Linked DNA regions of Homo sapiens: region 2 is linked to region 1. The links come from fine-mapping of genetic effects on gene expression. A gene starts in region 1. The other region holds a variant in brackets. All regions are shown on one strand. Distances are between the middles of the regions. Region 1 holds the start of CRAMP1 (cramped chromatin regulator 1). Region 2 overlaps CRAMP1 (cramped chromatin regulator 1).

What was found.
Region 2: its variant is fine-mapped to the expression of CRAMP1 in whole blood (TOPMed, PIP above 0.99).

The regions. Positions count from the first base shown.
Region 1 is chr16:1,610,156-1,614,492 of GRCh38, forward strand. CRAMP1 (cramped chromatin regulator 1) reads left to right here and starts at 2,205. Exons shown (of 21, transcript NM_020825.4): 1 at 2,205-2,502. IFT140 (intraflagellar transport 140) reads right to left here and starts at 1,917. Exons shown (of 31, transcript NM_014714.4): 1 at 1,813-1,917; 2 at 509-698. LOC105371046 (a long non-coding RNA gene) reads left to right here. Exons shown (of 3, transcript NR_135176.1): 3 at 1-173. RefSeq lists silencers at 244-623, 1,862-2,391, 2,412-2,531, 2,562-2,721 and enhancers at 1,652-1,711, 2,100-2,600, 2,601-3,101.
Region 2 is chr16:1,635,057-1,639,435 of GRCh38, forward strand. CRAMP1 (cramped chromatin regulator 1) reads left to right here. Exons shown (of 21, transcript NM_020825.4): 5 at 2,768-2,851. Among named protein-coding and RNA genes, the nearest start is that of CRAMP1, 25 kb to the left of the region's middle. The variant G/A (reference allele first, on the strand shown) is at 2,684.

The sequences.
Region 1 (4,337 bases):
GCCACCCTACAAAGCCTCGCCCTCCAGGCCACAGTCCAGAGCCTTCGGCCTGCGCAGGGTCCTCGCTGCATCCAGCGGACGGTACTGAGAAGCCATGCGCTGGCGGTTTGATGCAACACGACCCTCAGGGCCGACCCAGCGAGTGACCAAACATAGCATGTTTTTGTTTTGCATCTCTCGTTTGTCCCGTTTCGCCTCGGGGGTGTGATGGCGCCGCCCACCTCCCCACCCCGCCCATTCCAAAGGGACTCTCCCAGCTACCGGAATCAGCCGCGATTCGAGGCCGGGCGGGGGCGACAGCCATAGTCCGACGAGCGACCTGGACCCCGCGCCAAGCCCGCCCCAGCCTCGATGGGACTCGCGAGGGGCCGCGGGGACTCGGCGGCGCCGGGATCGTGGGAGGAGACGGGAGGGTCCCGACGCCCGCCACCGGTCACATCCTCGGCCCCAAACCCCGGCCTGGCTCCTAAGGACCTGGGTCGGCCGCCCTAGCCCTAAGGCCACTCACCTCTGCCAGGCCGCTGAGCCGCCGCGCGTTGCCGGGACAACGGCGCGCCAGGAACGCGGAAATAGCCGAAGGTGAGCGAGGCGGCCCCGAGGACTCCCGAAGCGCCCCGAGCGGCCGGAAAGAGCCGAAGGCGATCGGGCACGCACGTGCAGCTCCGAGGCCCGAGCGTCGGGGGCCAGGTTATTCCGCTCTGCAAGAGAGAAGCGGGACGAGCTTTTTCTAGGAGAGACGGCGGCGCAGGGCCGGCGTCTGGGTCCCCTTTGTGTGGAGGGCGCGCTGTCACAGCCCCGATCAACCGCGGCATCCTCCCCTCCTGGGCGTGTTCCCTTCCCGTGCATCCCGAGGCGGAGCCTTTCCAGCACGCGGCGGTCTCGGCCCAGGCCTTCCCTGGGCTCCGCTTTTCTAGTTTCGGAGCGGAGGGCGTGGGTCAAGCGTTTCTGGGAAAGTCGATGCGCTCGGCAGTGTCCTGAGGTGTTGGGTGACTGAGGGCCTGTTCCATCGCCGGGCCCCGGACTCCACAGAGCCAAGCGAGGCAGGGAGCGCCCCCAAGAAAGCAGCTGGCGGCCGGACGCGGGGCTCGCGCTTGGGCTTCCAGCTCTTGGGGGCTGGGGCGGGCGGATCGTTGGAGCCCAGGAGTTCGAGACCAGCCTTGGCAACAAGGCGAGATCCTGTCTCTAAAAAATTACAAAAATTAGCCGGGCGCGGTGGCGCCTCTAGTCTCGGCTACAGGAGGCTGAGGGAGGAGAATCGCCTGAGCCCCGGGAGGCGGAGACTGCAGCGAGCCGAGATCGGGCCACTGCACTCCAGCCTGGGCGACAGAGCGAGTCAAAAAAAAAAAAAAAGAAAAGAAAAAGAAACACTGGAATTTGAGCCGGGCGCGGTGGCTCACGCCTGCAAACCCAGTACTTTGGGAGGCTGAGACGAGCGGATCACTTGAGGTCAGGAGTTCGAGACTAGCTTGGCCAACATGGTGAAACCCCGTATGTACTAAAAACACACAAATTAGCGAGTATGGTGGCGCGCGCCTGTAATTCCAACTACTCGGGAGGCTGAGGCAGGAGAATCGCTTGAACCTGGGAGGCGGAGCTTGCAGTGAGCCAAGATTGCGCCACTGCACTCCAGCCTGGGCGACAGAGCGAAACTCCGTCTCAAAAAAAAAAAAAAAGAAAGAAAGAAACACTGGAATTTGAAAAACACCCCTCTGCTTTCTTGCTATGAAGAAAATGACCAAGTGCCCAGCGCCGCTCGGCTACGCTAACGTAGCGCAGAAGCACATACTCCACCCAGGAAAGGGTGCGCTTAACTGCCTCAGACGTGCTTCCACACTTCTCAGAACTCAGGTTCGCGCCCGATTCCACACTCCGAGCTACCACGCCGTTTTCTTCTCACGTATCCGTCAACACTGCTGCGGCCAATCACAGCACGGGCCCTGGCCTATTGGCTGTCTGTCCACCAATCCAAAGAGACGCACAGTCCGCAAGGTCGCGAGGCTGGCGTCACAACACTACTGGCGCCGCGGGCTCGCCCCCGACGCCCACCGGGCTCGTACGTGCGAGCGCGCCCGCCCAGCGCTAGCCAATGGGAGCGCCGTTTTGGGGAGACGGGCCCGAAGAAACATTGGGGGTGCTCGCCCCCGCGTTCGTCGCCCCGCCCCGCGCGCCCGCGCACCCCGGCCCCGCCCCCGCGCGCCGTCCGTGAGGTCCCCACCGGCCGCCGTAGCCGGAACTGCTGCTGAGGGCGGCGGGCCGGCTTCGCTAGGGTGAGTGGCGGCAGTATCTGCGTCCGCAGCCCCCGCAGCCGCGCGCCGGCCCGCGGAGGGGACGTGCCGGGGCTAGCGCCGCTCGACCAGTCGCTTCCGAGGCGGACGACCAGCCCGGCGTTGCGGCCTCCCTGCAGCCGGCGCTCGGGGGCCGGGGCTGCCCGGCCCGGCTGGTTCTGCGGGCACCCGGGGAGGCCCCGGGAAGCCAGGCTGCCGCCCGGCGTTGATGAAAAAGGTGACCAAGGCTGGGCGGCGGGGCTGTCATGGCGAGGCCCGGCCGGGGGGTCCTGTCGGGCGGCGCGGGAGAGCGCGGGGGGGGCGTCGCTTCCACAGCGCCCGGTACAGCCACAACTGGCCTCAGGGCGAGGAGGCTTCTGCGTCCCCATCCCGAGACGCGAGCCGGTGCGGAGCGGGACGGGGCTGGAGGAGACTGCGCCTCCGAGAAAAGTCCGGTCTCGTTGGAGGTTCTCGCGAAAAGGAGGCCATCCCCCTGCTTGTTGGCCCTTAGGGTAAAGTCTGGACGGCGTCGGTCCTTTCAGTGGCGAAAAGCGCTTCCCCGTGCTCGGTCGGCGTCTTGGGTGTGGAGCCCGGCGAGCGGGCGAGTTCACTCTGGTGGCCGAGTTTGTTTTGCTTGGGTCCCGGGTGGCCTGCGGGCGGACAGGTCCCTGGGCAGCGGGGTTCTCAGCCCGAGACGAGGTCTTTGGGGGTTTAGGTTTCTTGAGTGGAAAGAGGTGGGTTGAGGGGGAAGAGTGGGAAGTCTTGCCACGAAATCCCTTAAGTTGGGGTGTTTGTCGTGGGTGGTTTTGTTCTTTGGCAGAGTTTTTTTTAAAACTAGCATGAACTCGAGATTCCCTAGACCAATTCCGACAGGAGAAAACGGCCACGGATCCTTGTGTGATCTGCACCTCAGGGTGGGGGCATCATTGCGACTTTGAAGCCATTTCCCGATCTCTCGGAAAGAGAGGTCCTCGCCCGCGTCCCTGTATTTCGTGGTTGGTGTTGGTGCCTCGATCGTGTGTTCCTTTGAAGTGGAAATGCCCCCGTTCTCAACAGTTGAGTTGAACGCAGGGTCAGTATCTGCTGAGGAATCTAATCTTCAGCGTTTTTGCTTCCTCACACGTGCCCGTCCCGGACTGTTTCTGGGCTGCAGCTCTTGCTGTGTACCTGATTGTCTGAGTTTATTTTTGAGTGGCTCTGCTTTCTGGGCTGCAGCATTTTTAGTCACTGCACTTTGTTGTTGACATTTTACAGGGCGGTGGGTAGCAAAGTTGATGCAATAATTTTATTAATTGTTGCCAAGAGTTTTAACACCATTGTCTTCTACCGCTTCTTGCACCTGGACCCGGACATAACTGGGCTGTCACTTTCCCGGGTGGTTCCAACCTGTTCCATGCAACAGGCTCCTTTGTTGCAAAAGCATTTTTAACTAGTAAATCCCCGCAGCAGCTCACATTTCCCACCCTGGGAAGAAGATTCCCAGAGACCCGGAGCTGATTATTCTTTATGTGTGTTTTAAAATAAGCAGGCGGGCCGGCGGCATTGGGCCACCATGGAGTTCCCCGTGCGGGCAGGCGAGCCCGCGCTTCTCCCGTCCCGGGGTGGATCCGGCCTCCTCTGTCCTCCTCCAGGGCCAGCTCTGGGGGCCGGCGCGTGGGGCAGGTGCGCGGGGCCCGGGAGCCCCGCGCCTTTCGGGGGGCGGGGAGGGGGTGGGACGAGGGGCTAGGGCTGGGGCTGCGGCCCGGCCGGCCGAGGCGGCGCAGGGAGCGAGGCCGGCGCGCAGGGCCAGGCCATGAGCCGCGGCCCCGCCGGGTAGGTGGCTGTGGGCGGGGCAGCGGCCCGGACCCGCAACCGTGCCCAGACCCGCGCCCGCGCCGGGGCTCCCATAGACCCCGGGGCCGGGGCCGGGGCCGGGGCCGGGCAGGGTCCGCCGAGCTGTCGCGCCCTCCCGCCGCCGGCCCGGGCGTCTGGACGCGAGCCTCGGCCAGGGGGCGTCCGGGGAGGCCCGGGAGGGTCCCGGGCTGGTGGGCAGGGCCGGGGGCGGCGGCGTGGGGGCGGCAGGGGCCGCGGCGG
Region 2 (4,379 bases), 25 kb after region 1:
CCCAGCTAATTTTATATTTTTTAGGAGAGATGAGGTTTCACTATGTTGCCAAGCTGGTCTTGAACTCCTGAGCTCAGGAAATCCACCTGCCTCGGCCTCCCAAAGTGCAAGGATTACAGGCGTGAGCCACCACGCCTGGCCTGTGCTTTGGAGTTTTGAAGAGCACACCGTGTGCACTTTATCATGGGTTTGTCTGACTCATCTTGTGGCGTGAGACACAGAGTGGTGGCAAGCGAGCGTGGAAGGGACTGACTCCGCCCCCAGCTTGGGGGCCTTGCGTGTGTGTTCGTCTTACTAATCTCCCGTGGTTTCCATGCACATCTGCGTTTCCTTGCTGCTGTCCATTGCTCAGTGGAGATTTTGCTTCACGAACTCAAAGTTGGATGAGGTGAGCTTGGTTCCTGTCCCTGAGTGTGTAATAAAACATGAGGTGCCACCTAGGAGGCCGTGGGGCCAGGCGGGGCATCAGGGACACCTCCCGGAAGCCCTGCTTCGTCCCAGGGTCCCACCTCCCCTGGGGTCCCTTGTCTGCAGTGTCTTGCTCTTGGTGCTACTTTCTTGTTTCTGGGTTGTGGGTTTTTTTCTTTTTGCCATTTCAAATAGTGGACTTTAAAATATATATTTTAGAAATGGGGATATTATTCACCCTTTTAAAGCATACAACTTAGTGGTTCTTAATGTACTTACAAGGTTATGCAGCCATTGCCACTCTCTAGTTGCAGAATATGTCCATTGCCCAGGAGGAAACCCTGTGCCCCGGTGCTGGGAGCCCTCAGTTTACTACCTCCTGTCTCTATGGATCGTTCTACTCTGGATGTTTCATAGAAATGGGATCACGTGCTATGTGTCCTTCTGTGCCTGGTTTCCTTCACTCAGCGTCAGGTTTCAGGGTTTGTCTGTGTTGTAGCGTGTGCCAGTCCTTTGTATGGCTGGATTATTTTCCTTTGGGTGGATGGCCACATTTTGCTTGTCTACTGAATAGTGGATCTTAAAGCTTTCCGAGTCATGGGCTCCTTTAAGAAAGTCTGATGAGGCCAGGCGTGGTGGCTCACGCCTGTAATCCCAACATTTTGGGAGGCCGAGGTGGGCGGATCACCTGAGGTCAAGAGTTTGAGACCAGCCTGACTAACGTGGTGAAACCCCGTCTCTACTAAAAATACAAACATTAGCAGGGCGTGGTGGCGCATGCCTGTAATCCCAGCTACTTGGGAGGCTGAGGCAGGAGAATCCCTTGAACCTGGGAGGCGGAGGTTGCAGTGAGCTGAGATCGCGTCACCGCACTCCAGCCTGGGCAACAAGAGCGAAACTCTGTCTCAAAAAAAAAAAAAGAAAGAAAGAAAAAAAGAAAGTCTGATGAGCCCTTAGGTCTTAGGTCTTTCTCTCAGAAGAGCCTTTGAGAGCAGTTGGCCTGTGCTTAGCCGTGTCCGAGACCCATGGTCCAGAATCCTCCTCATATCTTGAAAGCCTGCTTCTCCATTTACCAGTCTTAGGGCCTTGAGAACAGGTCTCTGAGGAGAGAACTAGAGAGGACAATTGTGAGAGTAGAGGGGACAAATGGCCTTCACCCCTGCTCTGTGAAGTGACCCAAAGGGGCCTGGACTGTGTTGTCACTTGGTTTCCCTAGCAGGATTAGGTCTGGTGTAATACAGTAACAAAATGCAAAATAGCAGTGGCCCAAGCGCCTCAGAATTCACTGTCTCGTGGCAGAGACGCCTAGAGGCTGGCGCCCAGGGCAGGCAGGACCCAGGTGCCTCCCATTCTTGTGCTTGGCTGTCCTTGGTGACAGCTCCAGGCAGTGGCTCTTGAGGAAAGAGGGGTGGGAAAAGGGGAACCCTCCTGCCCAAATCAGGCTCTTTAAGGAGGCTTCTGGAAGTCTCCACTACTTCCAGTGGTGTAGCCATGACCAGCTGTCCATGTCTCAGCCTGTTTGCCTCCCAAATAAAACAGGGGCCTTGGCTGGGCACGGTGGCTCATGCCTGTAATCCCAGCACTTTGGGAGGTTGAGACAGGTAGATCATTTGAGGTCAGGAGTTCGAGACCAGCCTGGCCCACATGGTGAAACCCTGTCTCTACTAAAAATACAAAAATTAGCCAGGCCATAATGGTGTGCACCTGTAATCTCAGCTACTTGGGAGGCTGAGGCAGGAGAATCTCTTGAGCCTGGGAGGCAGAGGTTGCGGTGAGCCGAGATCATGCCACTGCACTCCAGTCTGGGCGAGAGAGTGAGACCCTGTCTCCAAGAAAAGAAAAAAAAAAAAAACAGGGCCTCTTACTGAGGAAGGAGAATGGGCCTCAGGCAGGGGTGAGCACCTGTCCTTGGCTCCTCCTCCCGCCTGGGCCCGGGCTATGCAGATCCACTGTCCTGGGAGGGCACAGGTGAGGCAGGAAGGCAGCATCCAGGTTTCAGGGCTGCTGGCCTCACCTGTGTGCAGAGATGGATGACAGGTTTAGTGCTGGCCACATCTGCCACCTTCACGAGTACCAGCTGTTCTGAGTGTTGTGTTTTCTCCTCCAGGGGACATTTCCTCTGCCTATTGGGGTAAATTTCTAACGCCCCACTTTGGTTTAACTTTTTATTTTGAAAATCGCAGACACAGCACCGTGTTCTATACACTCTGCCCAGTGTCCCCTGTGGTTGACAGCTTGCATGACAAAGGTACAGGGAGGAGATCCAAGAAACCAC[G/A]TGAGCCTGGTGTGGCTCTCACACCCAAGCCAGGCAGCGCCTCCTGTTCCCCTCTCTAAAGCCGCCTTCTCTTCTGTTTCTCAGTGTTCTCTCGAGGCCTGAAGAAGTCATCCCAGGAACTGTATGGCCTGATCTGCTATGGCGAGCTGCGCAAGAAGATTGGGGGCTGTGAGTACGCTGACTGTGGGGTTGCCCACGGCTCCTCCTGTCCTTTGTCACCTTTGGGCTTTAGTGCTCAGAGTTGTTTCTAGTTTCCCTCTAACTTTTATCTTGAAAAAATTTTACTAGAAGAGGTGAAGAATATGATGGCGGCCGTGCTCTTTAGCTTAGATGGACCTGTTGCTGACGTTGGCTACATTTGCTCTCTTTCTCCATGCACATGCACACATGCTCGCGTGCACACATGTGTTCACACACTCTGCATTCCACTCGACTGTAAGATGTCACGCCACAGCCCAGAATACCTCCACCGGCATCACCTCAGAGAACATTTCTCCTATATAGCCTTGATACCATGGTCGCACCTAGACTTTTAGCATTTACCAAACAGGTGTAGTGATCTTACCTAATTTCCTGCCCATATTCAGATTTTCTAAAACATCCCAAAATATCAGTCAGGGCTTCTGTCAAGGGCCGTTGCCCTGCATGTGACTGTGGAGTCTCCCTTGGGTGTCTTTGACTTAGAGCGGCCGCACTGCCTGGGCTTCTGAGACATTGCAACGCGCTCAGGCCTTCCTCACGCAGGCCCTTGCTTGGATTTGTTCCGATCGTCTCCTCGGGACCAGATTCCCTTGAGACATTTTTGACACGACCTCTAGGTAGGGACATTGTAGACTTACCAGGCGCTTGTGCCCAGCGCCCCTCAGCCCTGCTTCTTCTGCCTGACTTCATAAGAAGAGAGCATGCCTGGGCTGTCCAGTGGGCACTGTAGGGGATCCCCCCCTCTTCAGTGGGATACTGCACGACCACGCCAGCTAGCATGTCACAGCTCAGGGCGGGTGGTGGGGCTGAGAGGACAGATACGGAGCAGTCGCCCTGTCTGTGCCAGGCCTGCACCACACTCTGTCCCCTTGCTGCCCCTCCATGCCTTGCTGTGTCCTGCGGGGTGGCTGCTGCAATCTAGTGTGGCATTTGTGTGTGGGAGGCCCTGCCCTCCTGCACTTCCCCACTGGGTCTGTCCCCTGTGGGCCCAGCCACTCCTCTTACCTCCTCCAGCCTGCCTCTCCAGCCCGCACTCATGTCCGTGGGCCTCGTGTCCCAGCTCTTCATGCCTGTTCCTGCCGCCTCTCATCTGCCCTCTCTCAGCCTTGGGAAGCATCCCAGGCCCCAAGGAGTTTACGCCACAGCTCTCCCAGCTCTCATCTTCCCCAGATAAAGGAAAACCCCATCTTGACCATGTGTTCCCACTCCTTGTTGCCTGGTCCTTTTGCACCACTGCTTGTTCTGGTTTCCTCCCTAGAAGCTTCTGAGAGGTGGAGGGTGTCCAGGTTCTTGGCATTTCGAACAAAGAATTGTACAAAATGCACAAACAAAGCAAGGGAAGAATGAAGCAACAAAAGCAGAGATTTATTGAAAACCAAAGTACACTCCACAGGGTGGGAGTGGGCCCGGACGTAGGGGCTCAAGAGCCCTTTTACAGAAGTTTCCCCCTCTAGAGGGGGAAACCTCTAGAGGTTTCCCATTGGCTGCTTGGTGT